2 linked regions of the Homo sapiens genome follow. The protein of the gene in region 1 interacts with the protein of each later gene in a pairwise test. Each region holds a gene or a part of one and is shown in the gene's direction. Other genes may lie near its edges.

Evidence for each region. Proteins that work in one complex are often made in the same cells at the same time.
Region 2: the proteins of APOD (region 1) and CD53 interact in binary tests that used the Homo sapiens proteins (3 or more experiments, as listed by UniProt).

Annotation. Positions count from the first base shown.
Region 1 is NC_000003.12:195,573,585-195,577,440, reverse strand, and holds part of APOD (apolipoprotein D precursor), read left to right. Parts: intron 1-3,469; coding exon 3,470-3,591; intron 3,592-3,856. UniProt on the Homo sapiens protein: APOD occurs in the macromolecular complex with lecithin-cholesterol acyltransferase. It is probably involved in the transport and binding of bilin. Appears to be able to transport a variety of ligands in a number of different contexts.
Region 2 is NC_000001.11:110,879,648-110,883,147, forward strand, and holds part of CD53 (leukocyte surface antigen CD53), read left to right. Parts: intron 1-3,500. UniProt on the Homo sapiens protein: Structural component of specialized membrane microdomains known as tetraspanin-enriched microdomains (TERMs), which act as platforms for receptor clustering and signaling.

The DNA of each region.
Region 1 (3,856 bases):
ATACAGATTGCATTAAATCTGAAGATCAATTTGGGGAGTACTGCCATCTTAACAATATTAAGTCTTCTAACTTGTCAACATAGTGTATCTTTCCATTGAATTAGGTCATCTTTAATTTCTTTCAACAATACTTTGTAGTTTTCAGAGTATAAGTTTTATGTTTCTTTGGTTAAATTTATTCCCAAATATTTTATTCTTTTGATGTTATTGTAAATGGAATTTTCTTCTTTTTCTTTTCTTTTCTTTTTTTTTTTGAGACGGAGTCTCACTTTGTCACCCAGGGTGGAGTGCAGCATCACCATCTTGGCTCACTGCAACCTCCGCCTCCCGGGTTCAAGCAATTCTCCTGCCTCAGCCTCCCAAGTAGCTGGGACTACAGGTACACGCCACCACACCCAGCAAAGTTTTTTTGTATTTTAGTAAAGACGGGGTTTCACCATGTTGCCCAGGCTGGTCTCGAACTCCTGAGCTCAGGCAATCCATCCGCCTCGGCCTCCCATAGTGCTAGGATTACAGGTGTGAGCAAGCCACCGTGCCCGGCCTTTTAAATGGAATTTTCTTAATTTCATCTGCAAATTGTTCATTGCAAGTAGAGAAATATGTTTATATATGTATATATTTTTGTGTGTGTGTGACAGAGTCTTGCTCTGTCACCCAGGCTGGAGTGTAGTGGCACCATCTCAGCTCACTGCAACCTCTGCCTCCCAGGTTCAAGAGATTATCCTGCCTCAGCCTCCCGAGTAGCTGGTATTACAGTTGCGTGCCACCATGCCCGGCTAATTTTTAAATTTTTTATAGAGATGGGGCCTCGCCATGTTGGCTATGCTGGTCTTGAACTCCTGACCTCAAGTGATCCACCCGCCTCGGCCTCCCAAAGTCCTGGGATTACAGGCATGAGCCACTGCGTCTGGCTGAGAAATATATTTGATTTTTGAATATTAATCTTGTATCTTGTAACCTTGCTTAACTCATTAGATCCAATAGTTTTTGGTTTTGTCTCTGTTTTAGATTTCTTAGGATATTTTATATGTCATCTGCAAACAGATAGAGTTTTACCTCTTCTTTTCTAGGATTATTTTTCAATACTGACCAGAGATCTGAAAAGATTAAGAAGCCTTTGCAAAAATAATATGAGATCATAAGGAAGCTCTGAGTTTCCTCTTTTCTGAAAAATCATGCTTCCTTGGTTTTTACTATGGGGCACTAAACTCACTTTAACAGAAATAGAACAGATTTGAATGCACCATAGAAAATGGAGCTTCTTCCGAGAATGTCTATGAAACCAGTTAACCTCTAACCTTATTCTTTGGTACTTTAAATGAATGTTAAGTTCAGTGGCTTTAATTGAAAGCTGTGCTTTAATAAGTGAGTAGAACTTTATGGTCATGAATGTGGCATACATTTGAGCGGAAAGCCGTGGCTGAAGCAATACTCACCTGTGTGCAGCATCCTCTCTTTTCAAGTTCTGACTCTGAAGGTGAGCGCATCTCTTTTTGTTTTTAAATTTCTAGAATAGGCCAGGCGCGGTGGCTCACGCCTGTAATCCCAGCACTTTGGGAGGCCGAGGCAGGGGGATCACTAGGTCAGGAGATTGAGACCATCCTGGCCAACATGGTGAAACCCCTTCTCCAGTAAAAATACAAAAATTAGCCGGGCATGGTGGCACGTGCCTGTAATCCCAGCTACTCGGGAGGCTGAAGCAGGAGAATCACTTGCACCCGGGAGGCAGAGGTTGCAGTGAGCCCAGATTGCACTACTGCACTCCACTCTGGTGACATAGTGAGACTCCATCTCAAAAAAACAAAATTCTAATTAGTATTTTAACTAGATAAATATATTTACATTGTTCAAAATCCTAAAGGTGTAAAAGAATACACCACATAAAGTTTCCCTCCCACCTCTGTACCTCAGTTTCCCTCCCCAGTAGCAACTAGTAAAAACCATGTATTATGTAATTTTACAGATAATATATACATATACAAGCAAATACTTAATAACTGTGGTAAGCAGAAGAGTGGCTTCCAAAGGTGTCCACGCCCTAACCTTGTGAATGTTACTTTGCATGGGAAAAGGGCTTTTGCAAATGTGATCGAAGTTATGAGCCTTGAGATGGCCAGATTAGCCTTGATTATCCAGGGGAACTCAATCTAATCACATAAATCCTTAAAAGCAGAGAATCTTTCCCAGCTGTGATAAGAGAGAGAGGTTTGATGATGGCATAAGAGTCAGAGAGATGCAATGTGAGAAGGATCTGACTTCCTTTTGCTGGCTTTGAAAATAGAGGAAGCCTCAAGCCAAGGAATGTAGGCGGCCTGTAGAACTTGGAAAAGGCAAGGAAACTGATCCTCCCCTAGAGCTCCCAGAGGGAAACACAGCCAACACTTTGAGTTCAGCCCAGTGAGACCTGTCAGACTTCTGACTTACACAACTGCAAGATAATAAATCTGTGCTGTTTGAAGCTTGTGCTAATTTATTATAGCAGCAACAGAAAACCAACGTAATAAACATTTTCTCCATTTTTACACAAAAGGTGCCTTAATAGATACACTATTTTGTACCTGACTCTTTTGTCATTAAATATTAGAAATCACTGCATACCACTCTTTTGAAAGAGGAAGTAAAATTCCATTGTCTGGATATGCCATCGTTTACTCACCCAGCCCCCTACTAATGCTCACATAGGCTGTTTCCTATCTTGTATTATTACAAACGGTACTGTAATGAATAACTTTACACATACATCATTTCTTATATCAGGAGGATGCATTCCCAGAAGTGAAATTGCTGGGCCAAAGAGTATAATATGTATTTTTAGCTTTGCTAGATATTGCCAAACTGCCCTCCGCAGAGGTTGTAAACTGGTATGGTCTCCCTGCAACGCGTGCCAGGCAGCCTAGGAGGGCCTGGTTCCCTCGACCTTCCCCACACAGTGGCAGCTTCCTTTAAAGCTAACTGTATACACCTGAAGTCTGGACTGAGCGCAGGCCCCTAGAGAAAGCATGATACAGACCTTTCAAATCCCCACCACCTCTCCAAAGCCTTGATGACTAAATCCCTCCTCAGGGTCAGATGAGGAAAGTTCCGTGCGCTCTGGAGTCCTAGCTCCCCACAGCGAACACATCTGACTTTGCACAGGATTCAAAGATGACTTGTAGAATTGTGCACTGTTTCAGATGAAAGGTATTTCCCATCATCCCCTTTTTTTACAGAGTCTAGAATGTCACAGCGATTTTGGCTGAAGTGGGCCCTGAGAAGAGCCCTTTACTCAGCATTCACCCCCTGCCCGCACATCCCATCCTAGTCACAGATTCTCATTGCAATCAATCTCTTGCCCAGTTGCCACTGGGAACAATGAGGCCCATTTTGTCTGGCTTCCCCAGGACAGGGCTCTGCGTCTGCACGACAATGGGGAAGAAGTTGCAGGTCCCCAGAGAACCACAGGGTTTTGCTCTGCTTGTTGTCTCTGCAGTATCTCGGAAGATGGTACGAAATTGAGAAGATCCCAACAACCTTTGAGAATGGACGCTGCATCCAGGCCAACTACTCACTAATGGAAAACGGAAAGATCAAAGTGTTAAACCAGGAGTTGAGGTGAGTGGCTGTGGGCGTCCGGGGCCAGGCCTGCGGAGTGCTGATGCAGAGTGACTGGGTGTCCGGCAGCCTGGGTCAGGGAGGATGGGAACCTTGCTGGATCGGGACTGCCTGCTCCTAGCAGGAATTGAGAGGAAAGCGTTTGGCAGGCAAGGATGGCAAGGACTAGGATCCACTTATGCATTTCCATGACCACCTGCGGGGCACAAACTGACAGGGTTCCTGCACTCACTGCAAAATAGATACTCTGGTAGCAAAGAACATC
Region 2 (3,500 bases), on another chromosome or scaffold:
TCTTATGTGGCTCCAGCCTAGCTTGTAATATTGGATCAGATAAGGCTGAAGATGAAGAACTGATAGAGGTTCTTTTTTTTTTAACTTAAAAAAATTTTAAAATAGAGACAGGGTCTCTCTATGTTGTTCAGGCTGGTCTTAAACTCCTAGGCTCAAGGGCTTCTCCCACCTCAGCTTCCCAAATGGCTGGGATTACAGGTGTGAGCCACCATGGCGAGCCTGATCGAGGTTCTTGAAGCCTCTATCCAACCTTAACCACTTCTAAGCTTGATTAAATTCAAGAGTAGATTACATGGTGCTGTTAGTACAGGTCAAAAAAAAGACAGGGATGGAATTAGAAATCCGCAGGTTCTACCAGCTCAAGCCCATTGGAGGAAACTAAAGAGCAAAGTTGATCCCTAACCTCCATGTTGAGTTGTGGAAGGTAGCCACAGTTAAGTGCAGTTTGGTCACGCAGGTTTCCTGGAAACTGATATTGGTGGCTTTTTGCATAGAACCATGAGTCATGCATCTAAGAGTCATAGACTTTGACTGTGGGAGGGGTGTCGGTTCCTCTAGATGGTAGTTGGAAGGGGTGGGAGGCTTAATCACTGCCCAGTAACAGTGAAAAGGGGAAGGGGAAACGGAGCAGCATTCTCTCTGGGGCCCTTATGGCATGTGGCAAAAGTAGTGACAATCTTCACCAGGTGAGAAGATTTTCTTACTCAATTTAGTATGAGTCTGGAGAGGTAGAAAGTGGGAGAGGAAGGAAGAAGAGGTTCTTCTTCCTGTCTGTGAAGGAAAGAATCAGTAGGAATGTCCCTAAGTTTGTGGGCACCTAGCCAGCTGGTGTTCTGTGGACAATCAGGTTACACGGGCCTGAACTAATTGTCACAGGATACCAGGATGTTGGGGCTGATGTGACTCTAGGAGGCATCTGGCTCAATTCCTTTCTGTTACTGATGGGTGAGTTAGTTATTTTCCTATGTCCAAAACATCAGTTTATTAGCAGACTGAAAATTCAAGCCCAAGGCTCCTGACTCTGCAGTGTCATGTTCATTCCACTACATCAGATAATTCTGAGGTAATGAGGCTTTGAGAATTCAAAGATGAATAGCATAGATCCTACCCTCAAGGAGCTCACATTCTAGTGAGGGAATAGTCACTTATAAAACAAAATGGTTAGTACAATGGCAGAGGTACACAGGTATTACAGATACTCCTTAGGGCAAGTGAGGGTTGGGTGTGAAGACTTAGACACAAACAGAGAGGACTTCCTGGAAAAGTGACACATCATTAGGATGATGAGTAACTAACCAGAATAAGAGGCCAGAAAGAAAAGAGAAAATTTCAGCAAAGAAACACATTACCAAAGTAAGGAAGGAAGCATTAAGACAAGGATTCAATATTGCTTTGCTAAATTTTAAAGTATAATACAGGGGGTGTTGCCATGAGTGTGGAGTGATGGACAGGAGCAAATTAGGAGGGGCCTTTGACGTAAGTGTACATGCATAAATCCATCACCACAGTCAAAACACTGAGCGTATGCATCACTCACCACAGATTGTTGTGGCCTTCTGTAATCCCTTTCTCTCACCCTTCCCTGCTCCCTCTCTACTCACCTCCTGCCCTCCCCCACCTTCATCCTCAGACAGTCATTGATCTGCTTTCTGTTGCTATAGATTAGTTTTCATTTTCTAAAATGTTATATAACTGGAATCATACAGAATGTACTCTTTTTTATTTAACCTCTTTCACTCACCATGATTATTTTTACATTCACCTGTGCTGTAGAGGGTAACAACAGTTCATTCTTTTTAATTGCTAAGTAGTTTCCATTGTAAAATTATACCACTATTTATTTATACATTCACTTGTTTATGGACATTTGGGTTGCTTCCAGTTTGGGCTATTACAAATAATACTACAAAACTATGAACCTTCCTGTACTAGTCCTAGTATGGACATATGCTTTCATTTCTCTTGGGTAAATACCTAGGAGTAGAATGGCTGGATCATATGATAAGTATATGTTTAACTTTGTACAAAACGAGCAAACTGCTTTTGAACATGGTTATACCATTTTACATTCCCACCAACAGTGTATAAGAGTTCCAGTTTCACTACATCCTCACCAACACTTGGTGTGGTCAGGTTTTGAAAACATTTTAGCCATTCTAGGAGATGTGGAGTGGTATCTTACCATGGTTTTAATTTGCATTTCCTTAATGAGTAATGAAGTAGAGAATTTTTTTCATGTCCTTATTTGCCATCCATATAGTATCTTCTTTGGTGAATTGTCTGTTCTGATCTTTTGCCCATTTTAAAAATTGGATTGTTTATTTTCTTACCATTGAGCTTCAAGAGTTGTTTTTATACTCTGGATACATGCCTTTTATCTCCTGTGTGATTTGGAAATATTTTGTCCCTTCTGTGCCTTGTCTTTTCATTCTCTTAACAGTGTCTTTTGAAGAGCAGAAGTTTTTAATTTTGAAGAAGTCCAATTTATCAACTTATTGTGCTTTTGGTGTCTTATCTGAGAACTCTTTGCATAACCAAGGTTGCAAATATTTCCTTCTGGAGAATTATAGTTTTGGATTTTACCTTTAGATCTATGATTCATCACTAGTTACGATTTCGTATGGAGAGAGGTATAAATGCAAGTTCATTTTTGCATATTAATAGACAATTGTTCCAGCACCATTTGTTGAAAAAAGTATTCTTCATTCTGTAATATATTAATTTTGTATTTTTTTTGAAAATCAGTTGTCCATATGCATATGGACTCTATTCTGTTCTCTTGATATATTTATTTAACACCAGTGCTATCCTGTCTTTATTGTTGTAGTTTTATAGAAAGCAATATAATTAGGTAGTGTTTGTACTCCAATTTTGTTCTTTATCAAACTCATTTTTACTATTCTAAGTCTTTTGCATTCCCAAATGAATTTTAGAATTAATTTCTTGAAGCCTACAAAAAATTCTGCTGTAATATTGATGGGGATTACAATCTATAGATAAATTTGGAAGAATTGACATCTTAAAAATATTGAATTCCTGGTAGATGGACGTGGTATATCTCTCCATTATTTGCATCTTTTCAATTTCTTTCAGCAATGTTTGTTTTTAAGTTTTCAGTGTACAATTCTTTCACAACTTTTGTCAGATTTATGCCTAAGTATTTCATATATGATGCTATTGTAAATGATACTTTTAAAAATACTTGATTTCTAATGGTTACTAGTGCATAGAATGCTATTATTTTTTGTGGATTGAATCTTGTTTCTAGCAACCTTGCTACACTTACTTGTTAGTTCTAGTAGTATTTTTGTAGATTTATTTAGATTTTCTACAAAGACATTCATGATATCTGTGAACAAAGCCAGTTTTACTTTTTTTTCTTTCCAGTTTGGATGCCATTCTTTTCATATTTCATTTGCACTGCCTAGAAACTCCAGTACAATGCCAAATAGAGTAGTTAAGAGTAAACAGACTTATTTTCCTCCTTATATAAGGGTAAG